Homo sapiens: one gene and its partners. Changing the gene in region 2 together with the main gene of any one other region gives a genetic interaction. Each region holds a gene or a part of one and is shown on either strand. Other genes may lie near its edges.

Region 1 (7,024 bases), on a different chromosome or scaffold from region 2:
GTGGACACCCCCCCATGCGTGCCCAGATGCAGACACACCCCTGTCACCTCTGCCCAGATGTGGACACACCCCTCCCCATGCGTGCCCAGATGCAGACACACCCATGTCACCTCTGCCCAGATGTGGACACAGCCCTGTTACCTCTGTCCAGATGTGGACACGCCCCCCATAGCTGCTCAGATGCAGACACAACCTCCTCGCTTCTGCCCAGATATGGAGTCATGGGTACCCTGTCCCCCCAGTGGGTCTCTTGTGTCCCCACCTTCTCTTGACCTCTTCTCACCACCACAAGGTGTTGCAGGAAGTCAGGGACTGCGAACAGAGGGACCTGCTGAAGCCGTGACAGAAGAACATAAATTGTGAAGATTTCATGGACATTTATCACTTCCCCAATCAATGCTCTTATAATTTCCTATGCCTGTCTTTACTTTAATCTCTTAATCCCGTCATCTTCGTAAGCTGAGGATGTATGTTGCCTCAGGACCCTGTGATGATTGCATTAACTGCACACATTGTTCGTAAAGCATGTGTGTTTGAACAATATGAAATCTGGGCACCTTAAGAACAGGATAACAGCAATTTTCAGGGAACAAGGGACAATCGTAAAGTCTGGCTGCCTGGGAGCCGGGTGGAACAGAGCCATATTTCTCTTATTACCAAAACGGATAAGATAAATATCGCTGAATTCTTTCCCCAGTAAGGAATATTAATAATTAACAGCCCGGGAAAAGAATGCATTCCCGGGGCGGGGGGGGGGCCCTCTAAAATGGCCACTCTGGGGGTGTCTGCCATATGCAGTTGCAGATGAGGGATGAAACACACCCTGGCCTCCTGCAGTGCCCCCAGGCTTGCTAGGATTAGGAAATTCCAGCCTGGCGAATTCTAGTCAGATGGGTTCTCTGCTCTTGAACCCTGTTAAGATGTTTATCAATGACAATGCAAGCACAGTGGGACATGGAAGTTCATTAGTGGTTGTAGTTTCGCCCTGACCTTGTGATCTCACCCTGACCTTCTGCCTTGTGATCTTCTGTTGCCCTTGGAGCATGTGATCTCTGTGACCCACACCCTATTCGTACACTCCCTCCCCTTTGAAAATTGCTAATAAAAACTTGCTGGTTTTACGGCTCACGGGGCATCATGGAACCTGCTGACATGTGATGTCTCCCCCAGACACCCAGCTTTAAAATTTCTCTCTTTTGTACTCTTTCCCTTTATTTCTCAGACCGACCGACACAGGGAAAATAGAAAAGAACCTACGTTGAATTATCGGGGGTGGGTTCCCCCGATAACAAGGCTCTGCAAGGATGGTGGCTTTCAGTTTCCAAAAATGTTTCCTAAGCATCAGAGCAGGCTTTCGGAGTGGGAGGTGAAGATGTGGCTCTTCCTGGGCCCGAGGCCTCTTCTCCCTGACTGAGCGCAGTGTCTGCGTCTCTCACTGATGACCGCCTTTCTCGGCTTCTGACCAGGACTGTTTTGAGTTCTCAGTCTCTCGCACAGCCCATTTGCATAGGACTGGGGGGACACCAGGTCTTGTAGCTCACGCCTCCCAGTGGCCACCTCTGAAATTGGGAGGCCTCTTGCTGGGAGACACCAGGAGCATCTGCAGCCAGTGCGCTCTTTCCAGAAAGCCCTTTACCTGTGGCTTAGACGGTGCCCTATTTCTCACTGGGAACTGCCCGTCTTTCTGTTCTGAGTGGTGGTTTCCAGGCAGAGCCCCTGCCTGTCTATGCAGTGGGCACTCACTCTGTGGGGACCTCTGGGACTTGTTCACCCCGAGCCTGGGTACCCAACCTGCCCTGGCCAGCAAAGCCCCTCGGTAAATCTTGTGAGATGCTGAATAAACTCCAGCACCAGCTCGGTCATTGGGCCTCTCACGGCCTGTCTAGCAGCTCGTTTGGACCTGCCCTCAGCCTGGCCAGGCCCGCCTCACCAGCCACCTGCCTCAGGCTCCTCTCAGAGGGCTCTGAAGAGCACAGCTGGTTTGAAAGTTAACGGAATTAGTGGTGGGAACTGTGTCCCTCAGGAGGACTTGGGGGCAGGTGTGACAGAGGACCCTGGGGCAGACCTGGATGCTTCCTGCCTTTAACAGTCATCCTGTGCATTGAAATTCAACCCCCAAATTGAAATAACGATGCAGCCAACATGCTCAGCCTTTGTGCATGAAATCCTAGGCGAGCAGAGAAACGAGCTGGGGATCTTCTTGCAGGCTCACAACTGGGCCCCACCCTCTTTTAGGCAGGGGGAGGTTTTAGCCCTAACACCAGCCCCAGAGGGCCTTGCTGAGGCCTTCATGGTCAGCTCGCTGGCTTGGGGTGGTCTGATTAAATGCCAGGCGAAGGCCGTGTGGGCCTCGAGACGGAGGGAGGGAAGAGGGCGTGCACTGGAGACAGCATCTGACCAAGTGAATGTGTTTGTCCCTTTGTTATTCCGGAACCGCTCAGGTGGACCTGACTTGTTTTGTCGCTTTCTTTGGGGAAAGCCAGATGTTTGAGTTGTTTTGTATTGTTTTCCTTCAAGTTCGAGTTGATTATCTCTAATCACATACTTGCAAGCAAACGCTCTTTAATAGAGGCCTATTAATATGCTTTCTATTTTTTGCTGTGCTCAGTTTTATAGATTTCCCCAAGTAAGGTTCATTTTTGCCATTTAAGGAAAGGAAACAAAGACAGAGCTTCCTAATTATCCTCAGTAATTATTTTCAATAATATCCTTGAGTATACGATATCCTCTCGCGTTTTCTGAACAGACTTCACATTCTTCTTCTTTTCTTCTTCCTTTGGAAAACATCGTGACACTCCCAGCTGGCCAGCTCAGCGTCCCTGGAAGGGAAGGGACAACTGAAGTTCACCTCAGGACGGTGGAGCCCACATCATAACTGCACCCAGGTGGCCACAGCGAACGACACCACCCTCCGTGGCTGGGACACCCGGAGCATGAGGTCAGTGAGCCCACCCGGCGCAGGCCCCACTTCCTTTCCTCCCTCACCGAGCAGAACCGGGATGATGGTGGAGCTGATGGTGAGCCACATGCCTTTGGGGGCGCATGGTTTGTCTTTATCTCGTTTTTGTAGGAAATCATAAATCTTCATCTTGTTTCTTCACCCCAAATTAAGCTAGCACATCCACTGCAATGGAACCGGTGCACCTCGGTGGCTGTTTAATGTTCCATATTGATATCTCTGCATTAGCAGGAGTTTATTATGAAAACTAGGAATTGGGGCTTTTGTAACACTGAGCGAGATGGGGACCACAGGGTGCCCGTGTCTGATGAGCCGCTGCAGGCTGACAGCTGCAGTCCCCAGGTTAAGTCTCTCCTGGGGTCGTCCTTGACCATAGCTGTGCCTTCTGGAGACACACCTATAGGGCAATCATATTTTGTCATTTAAGTAATTATACCCAACAGCCAGCAGCTCTAATGGAACAAATAAGAGCGAGTTTTCCGTTCCAGTTGTGATTTTGATAGGCAAAGGAGTGATGGTAGCACGTCTGTTGCTGTGGCAACGGAAGCCCACACAAGCTTTTTTAAGATACAGTTTATCCCCTCAGCACACCATAATTTATCACCGAGCTGAAAAGACGGATGTCATGCAATAACTCGTGTTGATTCCAGGGTGGGGGCACAACTTTAGGTTTAGTTCCAAGGCCCCTCTGAAAACTCAGGGGCTAATAAAGAATCACTTGCCACTTCCTCCTTTGTGCACGTCCGTGCAGAGGGCTTGTTTGGTTTCCTAATCAGAAGCTGGAAACCACAGACTCAGCCCGTGATGAACGTCCTGCTGAAATCCATTTCTCCATGTCCTGTGGTCATCGTGTCCTTTGTCTGCATGGTTTTTTGAAGGATGTGAAGAATTTCAGTATCTGAAAACAAGAAACTCAAAGACTGACGTTACAGACCAAACAAATAAGCAAACAAAAAGATGCCCGTGGCTTTGATGGGTGACATCTGGCAGTGGCCTCATTTTGCCCGTGTTGTGTCTGTGGTGAGGACGTGCCAGCGCAGCACAGAGGGTCCTGGCGCCTTCTCATTGACTGTCATTTCTCCTTTTGCAAGCAGCTTTGGTTTGCATGGAGCCAGGATGCCTTTGGTGCTTTTTTAGGTGGTATGATGCTTTTGTGTGACAGTTACTGGTGATGGAGCATGCAGTAACCTTTAGTTAATACATCGTGCACGTGCGACTGTCCATCTAGTTCCCCGGGAATTTGCCAAGTTTTAAATTTTCTACCTTTGCCTGTTTCCCTTGAAAGATTTAAAAGTTTAGGTATTATATTTTAGGGAAGAAATATTAAGATATTGCAAAGGTGCAGGATATAAAAACCAGAAGATTTAAAAGTGGTTTAGGGCCGGGAGTTCTAATGTGAGAGAAAAAGATGAAAGGAATTGAGTTCCTCTACTTTGGAGAGCAGAGAACAATGATGGTCTTCAGATAAAGGAAGCAAATTACAAGGCACAGAAGTTTCCCATTGCTCATCAGCCCCATTGAGGCCTGCGGTGAGGAAGGTAAATGATGCAGGAGTGATTTCAGTCCCGCCCACGGCAGTGCTGGGGAGGCCGTGCAGGTAGGAGCTGCTGGGCAGCGCCAGGCCATGGGTTCTTTGCTCTCCTGGGCGCAGCCTTTTGTTCCAAGCCACTGTCCAGCCTCACTGGATGACCTGCCCTCTGGGATTCATGACATCAGGGCCATAGGCAGGATATTATGACTTCAGACCCTGCGAGGAGCAGCCAAGGACCATAGGATCCAGGGCAAAGTGAGATGTGTGAGTGCGTGTGTGCGTGTCTGCCCTCTCATGCATAGATGTGTGCATGTGTGTGTACATACATGTGTGGGCGTGCACACAGATGCACGCGTGAGTGTGAGAACGCACGCACTGTGAACAGCCGTGTGACTCATTTCAAACAGTCCCCTTCTCCCACCCTGGAGCGAGTGGGTTGCACTGGCCACCAGCAGTGTTGGACCTGGAGCTGGTGTGGACAGTGGAATGGCAAGCCCAGCTGGCATGGTCCTTCCTGCTTTCATGGCCTTCCCCACTGCTCCTCCCTTTCTCTCTCTCTCTCTGTATATATCTATAGATAGATAGATAGCCGGCCCCTTCCTGCTTCCATGGCCTTCCCCACTGCCCCCCCCTTTCTCTCTCTCTCTGTATATATATAGTTCTATATATAGATAGATATTTTGTGTTGTATGTGTATGTATGTATATATATATAAAATTTCCCAACACTATATTCTACCTCAACTCCCTGTCTTTTTCTTTTCCTTCTTCACTGTGTCCTTCCAGAAATGTGTCAGGCATCCTGTCCAAATGTCTGGCTCAGTGTCCCCATGGCTGTTGCAGCCCCTCTGGCATGCTTTCATTCTCAAGATGATACCAAGTCACATTTTTGACGGCTACAAAGCAAAAATTCCTTCCACGGCTCGCCCAGAGGGTCACAGATACGCTTCTGGAGAGATGAGCGTGGTGCGACCACACAGGGTTGCTGGGATGGAGGAGGTGGCGCCAGCCTCTTCCTGCAGGGCAGGAACGCCGAGGGGATGAGAGCACCCTGGGCCGGGGGATTAGACAGGGTCCCGGGAAACCAGTGTGTGCCCGCAGCACGCAGTGGCTTTTCCTAATCCATTTACTATTTTCCTTTGCTGTTCTTCCTTCTCCCTCAGCCAGATCTACTGCATAGAGAATGCCCACGGACAGCTGGTGCGGGACCTTGACTTTAATCCCAATAAGCAGTACTACTTGGCCAGCTGCGGAGACGACTGTAAGGTGAAGTTCTGGGACACCCGAAATGTCACCGAACCCGTGAAGACCCTGGAGGAGCACTCCCACTGGTAGGGCCGCTCCTGGCTGCTTCAGGGAGGAGGGGATTACGCAATTGATTTTGCTAATTACTTTACCATTGGGAAAGACACAAACCAGCTTAGTTTGTGCTGCTGTGAATCATTCAATCAACCCAGTTTTATTTTTCCTAAAGAAACACTAATTCCAAATCTGAATGTTTGTGATTTATAAACGTAGGAAAAGAAGAAAAACATTAAATTCTGTTTTCTCTTGAAACAGTGCTGGTTCAAGTATACAAAAATAAATGTGCACAGATGTTCACGCAACATTATTTGTAATGCCAGAAACCTGGAAACCACCCAAATGTCCATCACTAGGGGACTGGTTAAGTAAATTAGGTGACATCCGTGCAGTGGAGATGATGCAGCTGTCGGGAGAATGTGGAGCATCTCTATGTGGCTGTGGGAAGATCTCTGAGGTCACTCATTCTCCCTAACATATTATTTGAATGTTTTTCATGTGCTGGGTACTTTTTGCTAAGTAAGTAAAAAGATCAAGTTGTACAATGGCATGTATAGCATGAATCCATTTTTATGCAAATAAAACGTGTGTGCACACACGGGTGTACACAAGTGTGAGTGACACAGGTATGTGGAGGAAATGTCTGAAAGAGTAAGAGCCAAAATCTCATCAGGAATCCTCCCCAAGTCAAAGAGGGGCATTCACTCCCTATGGCCTGCATCTCTGTATTGTTTGAATTACTTATCTGAAGCTGTATGTTAAAACCCCGGATTGGTAGTGCACACTTCTGATAAATTCAGTGACTTGCTGGAATTTCCTGTGGTCTGAGTGGCTGGGCCTCCCTGTGCCCCTGGCCATGCTGGGTGCACCTCCTAGCGTCAAGGGCCTGGCACTGTCTGCCACCTGGGCCCTGGAGCTTGTTTTGGCCTCAGCATGACGGGAGGCAGAAGCTCCCAGGCTCTAGGACCCACGCCAGCAAGAAAGCTGATCCCAGTAGCCAAAACCAAGGACAGCCCTTGTGCCCCGGGAGGCCGCCATGCCCTGGTCTCAGGACCCACAGTCACTGCCAACTGGGAAGATGCCGTGAGACTTGTTTGATATTACAGGATATCGCTAATCCACATGTTGCTTCTGGGACAGTATTTTTTTTTTTTTTTCGAATTTTAGAAAGCTTGTCTGAAATGTTGCGTGATAAGCCTTCTCCTCCTGTAGGTTTCAGCCAACATTTAGTCT
Region 2 (7,520 bases):
AACAAAAAGAAAAATAATAGAATATATTCATTTTTGCATAAAGGTGGGGAAAGAGCAAATTTTTTTTGTATTGTTGTATAAGCGTATTGTCTTCCTGGAAGGATACATAGGACACCAGTAACATTGGAACACTGGTTCCCCATGAAAAAGGCAAACAACTGGGGAACAGCTATCCACGTATAATTCTGTCTATTATTCATATATACACATACTTCAATTTATCCTACATTTTTTAAAAAGGGGAAAGTTTCACGTTATCAAATTCTTTAGGCCAGGCACTGTGGCTCACACCTGTAATCACAGCACTTTGGGACACCAAGGCAAGAGGACTGCTTGAGGCCAGGAGTTCAAGACCAGCCTGGGCAACACAGCGAGACCCTGTCTCTACAAAAAAAAATCAAAAACTGAGGTGGGAGGATCATTTGAGCCCAGGAGGTCGAGGTTGCTATGAGCCATGATCGTGCCATTGCACTCCCACCTGGGTGACAGAGTGAGAACCTGCCTCAAAAAAAAAAAATTCAATTAAATATAGAAAAAATATTCATAGGCTGGGTGCGGTGGCTCACGCCTGTAATCTCAGCACTTTGGGAGGCCAAGGCGGGCAGATCACGAGGTCAGGAGATTGAGACCATCCTGGCTAACGTGGTGAAATCCCATCTCTACCAAAAATACAAAAAATTAGCCAGGCGCGGTGGCGGGCACCTGTAGTCCCAGCTACTCGGGAGGCTGAGGCAGGAGAATGGTATGAACCTAAGAGGCGGAGCTTGCAGTGAGCCAAGATTGTGCCACTGCCCTCCAGCCTGGGCGACAGAGTGAGGCTCTGTCTCAAAAATTCACAATAGAATTTGATATAAAATAAATGCAACATTTTATAAATGCTGTATTATGATACTCTAATAAAGTAAATTTATGACAATAAACTCCAAAGAACCATATTAAAATTGTTTAGTTCATTTCAATCCTGTATCTCTGATCCCATCACTATACAAAGATTTAAAAGAACTTCCTTATGCTGTTAATGTATTTTTCAAAAAGCACTAATAAAATTCCATTGATTAGCAAACCAAACACAGGTCCAAAAATAAAGTTACTAGACTATTTTGCATCAACTCGGTAAATAATACAGCAAGAAAATATTTCCTCAGTATCTATAAATAGGAATTGTGGTTAACAGCAAAAAACCCTAGATAGGAAAAAGCTCTTAATTTTACACTTCAAAAAATGCCAAAAAAGCTTCAAACTTATTACTTGTAAATCAAACTGTAATCAATCAGATATTTTATTTTATGTTGTTATTTATTATTATTATTATTTTTTTTTTGAGAAAGGGTCTCACTCTGTCAGCCAGGCTGGAGAGTAGTGGCCTGAGCATGGTTCACTGCAGCCTTGACCTCCCAAGCTCAGACAATCCTCCTGCCTCAGACTCCCAAGTAGCTGGTACCACAGGCATGTGCCACTACGCCTGGCTAATTTTTTTTTATTATTATTTGTAGAGATAGGATCTCACCATGTTGCCCAGGCTGGTCTCAAACTCTGGGGCTCAAGCAATCCTCCCACCTCAGCCTCCCAAAGTGCTGAGATTAAAGGTGTGAAACTTTCTGTGATACATTTTTAAATGTCAGTTATTTCACAATATCAGATTTTTTATCTTTTATTTTTCAGATGGAGTCTCACTCTGTCACCCAGGCTGGAATGCAGTGGCACAAACTCAGCTCACTGCAACCTCCGCCTCCTGGGTTCAAGTGATTCTCCTACCTCAGCCTCCTGAGTAACTGGGATTAACAGGCCCACACCACAATGCCTGGCTACGTTTTGTATTATTAGTAGAGACGGGGTTTCGCCATGTTGGCCAGGCTAGTCTCAAACTCCTGACCTCAAGTGATCCGCCCACTTTGGCCTCCCAAAGTGCTTCCCAGGCACTTTGTGCTTTACAGGCGTGTGCCACCGCGCCTAGCCACAATATCAGATTTTTATGTTACTGTTTTCTCTAATGATAAAAGCCATGTCATTATCAACTTGTTCACAAGCAAAAGGCCATTTTACACAGTATTAGCATTATATACTTCAACTTTTACCTTCCAATAAATACTTCTTGCTTTCATCTATAGAAATGACAGTGAGATTTTTTTAGTTTATGCTACTATACCTACTACAAATTATGGCATGAAGATTTTGTCAGAAAGGACTATTTCATTGCACAGTTCAGGAATATTTTACATGTTAAGATGAAAATGAACAAGGTGAGCCTCCAATGTATCAAATTCTGTGCTGTAAGAAACTGGAGTTACATCAGGCTTTGGTACACTTTTGAGACTGTAAGGCAAACAGGGTAACAAAAAAATAGATACTGCAATGATACCCATTCCAATTATGAAATAAAACTTAAACTTCAAGTTAATTCACAAACTGCTCTTCAAGTATTCTCTACTTAGCAAAAGCACAATTCAATAAATAAAATCTCAGTCACACAACATGCCTAATAATGAGGGCTCCTTTGCATATCAGATATGCCGTGTACCTGTAGAATAACTTCATTAGTACCTAAAGGTCATCTGAATCAACAACCACCAATATTCACTGATACTAAATTGTGGGAAGAAATGTCTCATTTGCTGTCATATAAAACCAACATTACCTGAATAATCATAGGTGTCTACTTTTCAAGATGTGAAAAAAACTTCATATATTACCTTGATCAGTAATTCATAACCCTGGTTGCACATTAAAATAACTTCTGGTAATTCCTAAAATATACTGATGTCAACCTCATCAGAACTGGAGGAGGAGTGCATCAGTAGTGTACTAAAACTCCTCAGTGATCCTAATATGTAGCCAGGAATGAGAATTATCAATCTCTTAGATTAGAGATGCTCCTGAAGGTTACTCTATAAACCAATGGGATCAGTTCTCCCCTCCATATCTTTCCGTGCACAACAGTGGAAGGGAAAAATGAGTGCCACATATTTCAAATGATTTTTTAGCAAATTGATTCTGGAGCATGTATACATGGTAGAATCTCAAACTTCAAGCATAAGAAAATTCATAAACTCTATCGTTAATGCCCAGCTATGACGATGCTGCAGACTTGTGCAAAGAGTTAATAGACTGTACTACTAACAGGGGAGGGGGCAGCTCACCCAATAACAGATGTCTGATTACAGACGCAGTACAAGAGCGAAAAGTACAGACTTTAAAGCCGGTCAACCCGGGGCTCTGCCACACACTGTTTACCTAAACCTGGGTTTCCTCCCTGTAAAATGGGAATTCACATCTACTTCATAAGTAGATATTAACGAGCTAAAACACCTAACTTAGTACGTAGTTACGATGATGATGACTCAATTTATAATACTAAGCTAATTAATGTCTGTTGAGTTTAACTAAAAGCAGAGGACCTGGAGAAAAGACCGGTCTAGGTCACTGCCACTGGCCCGCAAGCTCCTTTTCACAAATGTCCCGATGATGACATGTCATGAGCAGAAGACCAGGCAATTTCAGGCCATAGGAGAGAAAGGATGCAGAGGACAGGACGAGACTTGTAATGCCAAAAGGGGCCCAGAGGCCGCGCATCCCACCTATCGAAGCCTGGGCCGCGGCGATGCCGCCAGGTCTCCAGGATGAACCGAAGGGAGGCCGATGGTGGAGAATAGAGCACGCAAGGTCCCTCACCTTCACTACAGCTGTCCCCCGGCTGCCCTGCCGGCCACTGTCTACTCCCGCTCCGAGCTTGTTTACAACCAGGGTAGCCATCCTCGCAGGGGAAGCGCCACAGAAACAGCCTTCAGAGTCCTCAACTGAGAGGCGGGGTTGAGCCACCTACCCAGAGGCCTCTGCGCACGCCACCGGCGCACAGGCGCAGTAGGACACTGGGCGCCGCTTAGCCGACTCTTACTCCTCCTCCCCGCAATCGTCGGGTGGTTAGTTGCACAGCCTCGCGCATGGGCACTTTTGTTATTTTTCATTATGTAGTCTGCAGCTGCTGGAGGAAAGACAAGAAAAAAAAAGAAGGGACAAAACGATTAAAGTTTTGGGGTGAAAACTCCAGATCCTTTAATGATTTTTCCTCTCGAATCCAAACCAGCCAGGGCGTGAACTGAGGGCGGTGAGGGGGTACGGGCATCTCCCTGCATGCAACGCGGTTTTTGTATAAACTACAAATCCCAGCATGCCACTCTCTCTCTCTCTCTTTTTTTTTTTTTTTTTTTTTTTTAAAAAAAAAACTCCGGCAACGTTGGCCTTTGGGAGGCCGCGTATTGTTACCTAGGGGTGGTTTCTTTTCCTGCAGTCGCGATGTGTGATTGCAGATGGAAAACAAAGTATTTTATGCCTACGTTTCTAAGATAGAAGAAATGGACTTGTTGAAAAGAAGCCAGTTTGTAAAGGACACAGTAGGAGAATTTAAGGTACCACCACCAGAGAGAGGTTGAGAGTGCGTTTGACTTTTGGTTTTGCCAAACGCGAGGTTTTCCGTTTCCTTCCGGGGCAAGTTGAACCTGTCCAGCCCCCGTAGGCTGTGGGTCAAAAGTGCCGGTCAAAATGGAAGTGAATCCCCCTAAACAGGAGCACCTGCTGGCGCTAAAAGGTAAACTTTTGCGAACCTGATTCCCCCTTTTCTGTTTCCTTGCATTCCCTACTTATCGAAGCCTTTGCCATGTAGGCCTCATCCTTCTTAAACACTCAGTGCTCGCCCTCCTGCTCTGTCCTTTGCCGCCAAGCGGGAGGAAGCGATTTCTCCTGGATGCTTTTTAGGTTTATGGGCCCCTTTCTAGAACGAAATAGATACCTGGTAAATCGTTCTTTCTGATCTGTGCTGCTTCAGTCACGAGATTTTAGCCGCAGAAGCTGACGTCCCGCTCCTACCGTGGAGATCTCTGTGAATTACAGCGGGCATCCAAAGTGCTTTTTCCTTCTGTCTCTTGTTTCTTCCTGTGGCACTGACGAAGTTAATCAGGCTTCAGCTTCCCCTGTAAAATTAGTATTGCATGACAGTAGTGCAGAGAATTTAGCAATACATAGTAATACAACATATAACTTAGATTTATTCAAAACAAACTGCAGTTTACTTCAAATCACTGTGTATGTGGGAAATATGTCCGAGATCTAATGTCAACTCTCATTTTTTGTACACAGCCATTTTGAGTAAGTTTGGTGATTTAATTAGATCATTATTTAGGAAAAAACAGCAGCACTTTTTTTTTTAGGACAATTTTTTTAATGCCTATTTTCTGGAAACCTTTTATTTGAAATCTTTTCAGCTTTATTTTATTTGTTTTTTACTACAACAAATGCGCTTTTTGTTTCTTGGATGCCTTAATATATGGTTAACAATGACTTCTTGAATGAGCTGAGGAAATGCTCAATAAACATTCGGGTTCAATTGAATTGCGCTTACTTTACTTATGGCATCCATTTTGAGGAACGCCTTATCCTTCCCATTATGATGTAGTCATCAGACTTTCTAGAAGCTCATCAGTCTCATATAATGATGCCTGTGTTAGCGAGATTGTCTCTTACTGTGGAACTTTGTAATGTTTAGTGATACAGTGATGGGACCTGTAAGCTTAACCTGAGCAAATGATCTAGACTAAAATGGAGATTAAAATGGATTGTTACTCGTGGAGAAGAGGGAAAAGAAGAAAAGCAACTAATTGTCGTGTTCTTTATCTCACAATCTCACTTCAAGTATGTGGAGTAAATATTAATTCTCAGAGTTTAAGTAACTTTTCCAAGATCACATAGCTAGTGATTGAGGCAGTGTTTCAACGCAAGGCCTGCCTCTCTTTCCAAGAGTCCGTGTTGCCTCCTAAAGAATGAAGCAGCATTCTCAGAGATAATTCCTCTACCAGCTACTCCGATGGGAATTTGGAACAGTTCTATTAACTGCTACGTGTGATTTATACAAATTAGAAGCTATTAAAAACAGTTAAATTGCAGCCGCGCGTGGTGGCTCACCCCTGTAATCCCAGCAGTTTGGGAGGCCAAGGCGGGTGATCACAAGGTCAAGAGATCAAGACCATCCTGGCTAACATAGTGAAACCCCGTCTCTATAAAAATACAAAAAGTTAGCCAGGCGTGGTGGCGGGCGCCTGTAGTCCCAGTTACTCAGGAGGCTGAGGCAGGAGAATGGCGTGAACCCGGGAGGCGGAGCTTGCAGTGATCCGAGATCACGCCACTGCACGCCATCCTAGGCAACAGAGCGAGACTCCATCTCAAAAAACAAACAAACAAAAAGTTAAATTCCAGTGATACAGAGACTGCCACTGGGAATTTTTAGTTTTCTGTTATTCTTTTTTTTCCAAAACCAAGGATACCTAAGAAAGAATATTTAAGCAGCCTAAGCCAGGCGTGGTGGCTCACGCCTGTAATAGCACTTTGGGAGGCCGAGGCTGGCAGATCACTTGAGATCAGGAGTTGACACCAGCCTGGCCAACATGGCGAAAACCCGTCTATACCAAAAATACAAAAATTAGCCAGGTGTGGTGGTGTAATCCCAGCTACTCGGGAGACTGAGGCAGGAGAACCGCTTGAACCTGGGAGGCAGAGGCTGCAGTGAGCTGAGATTGCGCCACTGCACTCCAGCCTGGGTGACAGAGTGAGACCCTGTCTCAAAAAAAAAAAAAAAAAAAAAAAAAAGAACAATAAGCAGCCTAAACGGACAAGTGCTTCAAAATTGACTGATAGTTTCAACTTTATTAAACCTCTTTAGTACCATCTTATAGTTAACCCATTGTTCTAGTTAATCAACAATTTTCACACATTTCAATGTGCTGATGCTGAATGCCAAATGTATTAATTTAAGTGGTCATTTAAGTTCACTTTATCTTTTAATATGTAAAATGTTAAAGATAATATCTTGTTATTCTTGGTTGGGTGAGGTGGCTGATCACTTGAGATCAGGAGTTCGAGACCAGCCTAGCCAACATTATGAAACCCCGTCTCTACTGAAAATACAAAAATTAGCCAGGCGTGATGGTGTGCACCAGTGGTCCCAGCTACTCAGGAGGCTGAGGCACAAGAATCACTTGACCCTGGGAGGCGAAGGTTGCTGTAAGCCGAGATTGTGCCACTGCACTCTAACCTGGGCAACAAAGACTCTGTCTCAAAAAAAAAAAAAAAGTCATCCCTTGAGTATAACACTGATTGACTTTAGACAACAAGAGAATTTCTCAGTGCCATATTTTACAATGTGAAAGTATAAGGAACAGGGAAGAAAAACATTAGTGCATCATTAGTTCTTGAAAGTATATATGATAACATTTAGATCCATATTTAAAATATGGATGTTAAAGATCACAATTATTTATGAATTTGAGAGTTGTCAGATCTGTTAGTGGGCAGTATCAGTAGGTAAAAATAATGAAATTATTTCTTCTAACTCTTCAGAATCAGACAGTGATTCTATTGTGAAATGATGACAAGAATCCATACTCATGGTTATCCTAGCAGTGGGAGAACCCTCATCAAGTAATTCTCTAATGATTTTTGGGGAGAAGGGATTCAACTTATTTTTTTCTGCTGTT
Region 3 (7,024 bases), on a different chromosome or scaffold from region 2:
TCTGAGCTGAGAACAAATGTTATAGCTAAACTGCCGGCTTTTAAAAATATGGCTCTGGTGACATACCTTTAAATATAAGTGGGCTACTGAACACCACTATAATTAAGATCTAAAAATTAAAAACAAGGTTGTAATACTTAGGAACCCTACAGAAGGAAATGAGTTAGGAGACAGGGAAAAGAACAAATAGAACAGAGACAGAATAAAATCCCTCACAAATTAAAATCTTCTTCCTAAGGAAGAGTCATTCCTTGATCTTTGGCTTCATAATTCTTCCCAGCAGCTTTTGTCAAGGGAGACAGTCATTTGAAAGTGGGCTGACTTGATCTTCCCACTAGAAAAAATAAAAGCTCACTGGTTGTAGGTAAGTAAGCACAAATCCTACCATTGCATAATCAAGTGTGTGGGTGGAAGTGTTCACAATGAACAGTTTGAAAGGCAGTTCTCTGAAGCATCCAAACCCCAACATCACATGGAACTCATATATATATATATGGCTTTTGATATCCATGGTAACCAGGCAGGGTTCATTCTTAAAGAGAAAGTACTGTATTTCCATTGGGTTATTCTGTGGCCTGAATAAACAGAGACAAGTAGGCAATCCTTACTACTTGCTCCTTCTCAGTAAGATATTTTGGGGCTGGGCATGGTGGCTCATGGGTGTAATCCCAGCACTTTGGGAGCCCGAGGCAGGCGGATCACCTGAGGTCAGGAGTTCGGGACCAGCCTGGCCAATACAGTGAAACCCCATCTCTACTAAAAATACAAAAATTGGCCAGGCGTGGTGGCTCACGCCTGTAATCCCAGCACTTTGGGAGGCCGAGGCAGGCGGATCACGAGGTCAGGAGATCGAGATCATCCTGGCTAACACTGTGAAACCCCATCTCTACTAAAAATACAAAAAATTAGCCGGGCATGGTGGCACACACCTGTAGTCCCAGGGAGGCTGAGGCAGGAGAATCACTTGAACCTGGGAGGTGGAGGTTGCGGTGAGCTGAGATCGCACCCCTGCACTCCAGCCTAGGCAACAGTGCGAGACTCCGTCTCAAAAACAAATAAATAAATAAAAATAAACATACAAAAATTAGCCGGGCATTGTGGTACATGCCTGTAATCTCAGCTACTCAGAAGGCTGAGGCATGAGAATCGCCTGAATCTGGGAGGCAGAGGTTGCAGTGAGCCGAGATCACACTACCACACTCTAGCCTAAATGACAGCAAGACTCTGTCTCAAAAAAAAAAAAAAAAAAAAAAAGATATTTTGGGATTTGGCTTTCAATTCTAAACAGATCCAATTTGCTACCATATATATAACTAACAATGGCACCTCCCTGTCATAGTTCTGTACTGTTTATACTGCCTGGAAATGTTACTGCCACGGGTGGTATATGAAAACTTAAAGGAGAGAAAGAATAAAGAAGGTCATTTCACGTACAAACAGTGGGGAGGCAAAAAGAAAGTATCAAAGTTGGATTGTCTGTACTTCTTTACCAAAACAAGGTCAATCTTTGAGCTACAACATCAAATATTAACATAGATTGTTTTTAGGTTACAATATTCCACCAAACACACTCAGCCTATAATAGACCTCAAAATTTTTGGCAAAAATTCATAATTTCTTTTCTGTTGCCTTTTTCTTAGGTTCCAGCCATAAGATTTATGAAGGGGAAATTTTCACCGTTGTTGTCTTGAGGGAGATAAATCTTACGTATCCACCAAACTCCCAATTATAATACACTCAAAGCCTGTCCTTTCCAACTGGGAGTGGCTGATAGACACATAACAGTGAGTGAGTGCCAGGTTCACATTCTCATTCATTTATTCAACAAATATTTATTAAGCAAGTACCATGCTGGGCACTATGCTAGGCATTTAGTAGTAAACAAAATAGACAAGATCCTGCTTACATGTTTGGGTTCTCAGTCTCTACTCTCACTAATCTTAGGCAAACTGCTTCATTTCTCTGGCCTTAATTCCCTCATTGATCAAATGGTAACATCAGATAACATTACTATTTTACATTCATTTCAGTGCTTTATAATCACAAGGTGACATTTTTCACAAAATATCTCATCTGAGCCTCACAAGGACTCTGAGAGTGTGGCAGGACAGGCATTACTGACCTTGCAGGTCTAGCACTCCATGCCTCTACAACTACTCCCTGAGGAGGAAAAGCTAGAGTTATGTAAGCTTCTTTTACAGAGAAAATCACTGGACTGTCTTTTTCCAAAGTTTTCTTTGGAAATTTAGGAGGCCTGAAGGATAGTACTACAGACCAATTTAGTGGGAAAAATTAACAACTACGTAGGTTCTTTGTTGAACACAGCTATGCTCACTCTGAGAGATCTAAGATCATATTAACCAAGAAAAACAAAGTGGTGGTGGGCTCACCATCAGAGGAAGGCGGTGTGGTCCCAAGTGGTGTGACTGGGGTTGTAGGAGCAGGACTGACAGGGGTCGTCACCAAGCCCATTTCTGGATGGCTCTGAAAAAGATACACAGATGTGTAAGAAAACAGAAAATCCAGTTCTCCCTGAGTATCAAGTGCCTAATACCAATAAGGACTGGTATTCTGGACCTTATAATTTTTTTTTTTTGAGACAGCATCTTGCTATGTTGTCCAAGCTGGTCTCGAAATCCTAGGCTCAAGCACTCTCCTGCCTCAGCCTCCTGTGTACGTAGGACTACAGATGCATGCCACTGTGCCCCTAGTCTCATAATTAGAAAGCTCACTGAGGCTGGGCACAGTGGATCACACCCATAATCCCAGCACTTAGGGAGGCCTGGGCAGATCACAAGGTCAGGAGATCGAGACCATCCTGGCCAACACGGTGAAACCCCGTCTCTACTAAAATACAAAAAATTAGCCAGGCATGGTGGTGCATGCCTGTAGTCCCAACTACTTGGAAGGCTGAGGCAGGAGAATCACTTGAACCCAGGAGGCGGAGGTTGCAGTGAGGTGATATCACGCCACTGCACTCCAGCCTGGTGACACAGCAAGACTCTATCTCAAAAAAAAAAAAAAAAAAAGAAAAAAAAAGCTGAGAAGGGACTACTTCTGTATTTCGTTCTCATGAGTACTTGATTACGACTGATGCTTGCTAATCTCTAATAAGCTCTGTGTGCTAATTTATCTTAAGCAACTAGGTTCCCATTACATAAGTTTTTCTGTGGCACCACAGACATTTAAAAAAAAAAAAAAAAACTGGGGTCAACAAATATACAGGATTATTCTACAAGAGAGCAGAGAACATTTGCAATCCCATCCAGACCTGGGATCTCATCAGATCAACCTAAAACACATCAATAGGCTGTTCTGATAACCAAATAATTGACTAGCAGATGTAGATGAGTCAAGGGGATACCAGGTACTATAAAAAGAGCTATTCAGCCGGGTGCGGTGGCTCACACCAGTAATCCCAGCACTTTTGGGAGGCCGAGGCAGATGGACCACGAGGTCAGGGGATCAAGACCATCCTGGCTAACACAGTGAAACTCTGTCTCTACTAAAAAAAAAAAAAAAAAAAAAAAAAAATTAGCCAGGTGTGGTGGCAGGCACCTGTAGTCCCAGCTACTCGGGAGGCTGAGGCAGGAGAATGGCGTGAACCCGGGAGGCAGAGCTTGCAGTGAGCAGAGATCGTGCCACTGCACTCCAGCCTGGGTGACAGAGCGAGACACCATCTCCAAAAAAAAAAAAAAAAAAAAAAAGCAAAAGAGCTATTCAGATGGCGGCCTTCCTGTTCCACAACAAACAAAAGTGTGTGTGCCTTCATTGGGAGGCAAAGACATGGTGAGACACCCAGTAGGGACCAAAACAGATGACTCTTCTGTCCCTAACCTTTCTTAGCCATCCCTCCCACATCAGCTCTTGAGAATTAAGCTGAGTGATAGCTGTTTTTAACTTCCCTTTTCTTCCCTAACAGCTTTACCAGCACTTTACCTTCCTCACCTCTTCCTTTACAATCAGTTATAGGATTTGGAGAGCAGATAAGAAACGAGTGAAAATAATAACTAAAGTCTCTATGTTATCAGTCATGAAAACTCTTAAGTGTTCTATGAAGCAGATCTCAAACCAGCATGATGCTTTTTAAGCATGACCTTATTTTTGTGTTAAAATTCAAATCAATAGATTCCATATACATCTACCCTTTGAGAAAAAGCATAAGCAAACTTTCCCTTAAAATAACCCTACATACATATTTTAAACAGTCTGGCTTTAAGATAATAACACTTTATCAATTTTTTAAAATGGCTTTCATGGACAGCTCTTGAGTTCTTGGTCTACTTTAGTCCTCTTCTATGCCAATTACTGTGGCTATCCCTCAGGCATGTGACCCATCGCTCAGTATTCTGGGGGTATTTTTGTTTGTTTTTTTATTTTGTTTTATTTTGTTATGTTTTGTTTTTATTTTATTTTTTTTTGAGACAGAGTCTCACTCTGTCACCCAGGCTGGAGTGCAATGGCGCGACTTCGGCTCACTGCAAGCTCTGCCTCCTGGGTTCACGTCATTCTCCTGCCTCAGCCTCCCAAGTAGCTGGGACTACAGGCGTCCGCCACCACGCCCAGCTATTTTTTTTTTAATTTTTTTTTTATTTTTAGAAGAGACAGGGTTTCACCGTGTTAGCCAGGATGGTCTTGATCTCCTGACCTTGTGATCCGCCCACCTCAGCCTCCCAAAGTGCTGGGATTACAGGCGTGAGCCACAGCGCAGGGCCCAGCGCTCAGTATTCTATGACTTCCTTTCAATGTATGTAAACCACGTTATCTGTTAACAGCTAACCTTAACCTGGCCAGGATATTTTTTACTTTTTTCCTCTGGAAATTGGTGAGATAATAAGGTGAGTGGCTTGGCCTATTTTATCTCCAGTTGTAATTCCACAGTGGTGTGGAAAGCAGAAAGCCCAATATAAAAATCCACATAGCGGATAATACCAGGGATTTCTAGTGAGCAAAATGAAGTCATGACAATTCATTTGGGTTAACAGGATCAATAAATTGGCCAAAAAAACTAACTTTGCACGTTATTAGACCCATTTCAGCACCAATGGAAACATACATATTTGAGGACAGCAGGAAACAAAGGCAACTGATTCAACTCCTTGTTACTACCACTTACCAATGCAAAGCAGGGTTTAAACAAGTACAGCCAGATAGGCTTTTCAATGGAATTAATCGGTATGAAATTTAGAGAGAAAAAAACACTGGGATTTTTAATGTGACCAACCTGAGCTAATACTGTGATGAAGTTGCGATTTAAATGAACAGCTTCATAAAGTGCCAGAAGAATGGCCTCATTGGTTCTAAAGAAAAAGAGAACAAATTGGAGCAGTTTTTATAGTGGGGGGAGTTAAAACAGTATAACCATGAAGATAAGATTGGATTGCACCCCAGCGCCTCATTATCAATTCCTTTGCATTTCTAAAGTTCCCCTTTACTTGCCATTTGGGCGTATGCAAAAGTGTATAGGCAGGAGTCAGGGCCTTCACTTTAATTCCTTAGGACCAGTTCTCATCTACTTCATTATCTTCCCTCTGTTTTTCCACCTCAACCCAGTTAAGTCCTCAACTGGCTCAGACACCCATCCCTCTTTTGTTTCATTGCAGAGATAGTCTGGCAACAGTTGTTCAGCTTATTGTCGCTCAATACATATGAAAAGCAGAAATTTCTAAGGGTCCATTAATGTTCAAAACCCATGAAACATTTGAAAATCACCAAAAAAGTATGATTCTGTAAAAGATTAGCAAGAGGTAACACTGCACACTCTCATATCCAGCAGGACAGCCCACACTAAAGTCCAAGTCACTGCACAAGAATGTCAGGCACTTACTGTACTGAGATTTTCTCATGGGCATCTGCTATGAACATGCTGCCCACCTGTGGAAGAAAAGGGGAATTGCAAACTTATAGCAGGAGGATATGAGAGGAGCTTTATGCCTAGGAAGCCTTTTATCAGTGAAGAAAACAAGCTGCTTCCACCTGGGGAGAACTTGGAACTCTAGGCCATAAGTCACACACACCAAAACCAGCCCACTTTGAAAATCTTAAAAGACTCATAAGTAATAAATGAAATAATGAGAATCCTACTAAATCATCTTGCCTAGTAAATCATCTTGCCTACTAAATCACCTCGCTTTAAAGAAAAAGCCTAGTACTTTTGTCCAACTCTCCTTTTCAGTGTGTAAGTTTAGTCCCTCTGACAGTTAACCTACACATCTTCATCACTCTGTATCTTTCCTAGAAGTTGCTTATTTGAAGTCAGAAACTAACTTAGGAAAAACTTCACAGGAAGCAGGCTGACTTCAACCAACATAAAGCTATCTTTGGGAACAATATTCAGGTTTCAGACCAAAGCTGTCTATATGAGATCCACTCTCCATTTTTCAGATAACAAAATCTTTAGTTTGTGTCCTAGTCAGAGCAAGTGAATAAGTAAATGGAGTAGGCTGCCTCTAATGTGTATGATATCAGAAGCACTAAGATGCCTACACCCACTAAAAAATACCTCTTCCACCTCCTTAATTATGCTTGAAACTATACACAAACCTATGCTCCTAGAGCTTCATGTGTTTGGTACAAAACTTTCTGAAAACTTGACTGAAAGGCAGAGATATCTGGGAGCAGTATAATTGTATCTAATTCATTTCATCAAACACCAGTACAAAACTCATACTTCTCTAGCCCCTGAGAGACTTCACTCATTTACATTTTGGAGTTAAAGAGTTTATCAGGCCCCTTCCTGAGAACAGGCTGAGAAGGCAGAAGGAACAATTCGTAAGCAGTGGAGGAAAAAGAATTGCAGAAGTGGAGGAGGAGAGGGGGCAACTACTTCTTGCAACTAACCAAAAAATTGTCTTGCCCTAGAGCTGAATACTTGGATAATAATGCCCGAAAGACAGACTTTCTGAATCTGCCTAGATTCTAGAATCTCCTAGATTTATCTCTTCAAAATCAGTCCCAGATTATCTGGTACCAAATGCCAAGAAACCTTGCCCTGGAGTCTTGCCAGCTGGACCAATAACTTCCC

The links. Genes that interact genetically often act in the same process or in processes that back each other up.
Region 1: changes in TRAPPC13 (region 2) and EIPR1 are lethal when combined (synthetic lethality), as found in Homo sapiens cells (one study listed by BioGRID).
Region 3: changes in TRAPPC13 (region 2) and ARMH3 are lethal when combined (synthetic lethality), as found in Homo sapiens cells (one study listed by BioGRID).

The regions. Positions count from the first base shown.
Region 1 is NC_000002.12:3,192,795-3,199,818, reverse strand, and holds part of EIPR1 (EARP and GARP complex-interacting protein 1), read left to right. Parts: intron 1-2,801; coding exon 2,802-2,938; intron 2,939-5,652; coding exon 5,653-5,820; intron 5,821-7,024. UniProt on the Homo sapiens protein: Acts as a component of endosomal retrieval machinery that is involved in protein transport from early endosomes to either recycling endosomes or the trans-Golgi network.
Region 2 is NC_000005.10:65,620,525-65,628,044, forward strand, and holds the start of TRAPPC13 (trafficking protein particle complex subunit 13), read left to right. Parts: upstream 1-4,502; 5' UTR 4,503-4,536; coding exon 4,537-4,582; intron 4,583-7,520. Other genes in the region: E3 ubiquitin-protein ligase TRIM23, read right to left, coding at 3,670-3,750.
Region 3 is NC_000010.11:102,004,150-102,011,173, forward strand, and holds part of ARMH3 (armadillo-like helical domain-containing protein 3), read right to left. Parts: intron 5,875-7,024; coding exon 5,828-5,874; intron 5,301-5,827; coding exon 5,225-5,300; intron 2,485-5,224; coding exon 2,391-2,484; intron 335-2,390; exon of another isoform or gene 217-334; intron 1-216. UniProt on the Homo sapiens protein: Involved in GBF1 recruitment, Golgi maintenance and protein secretion.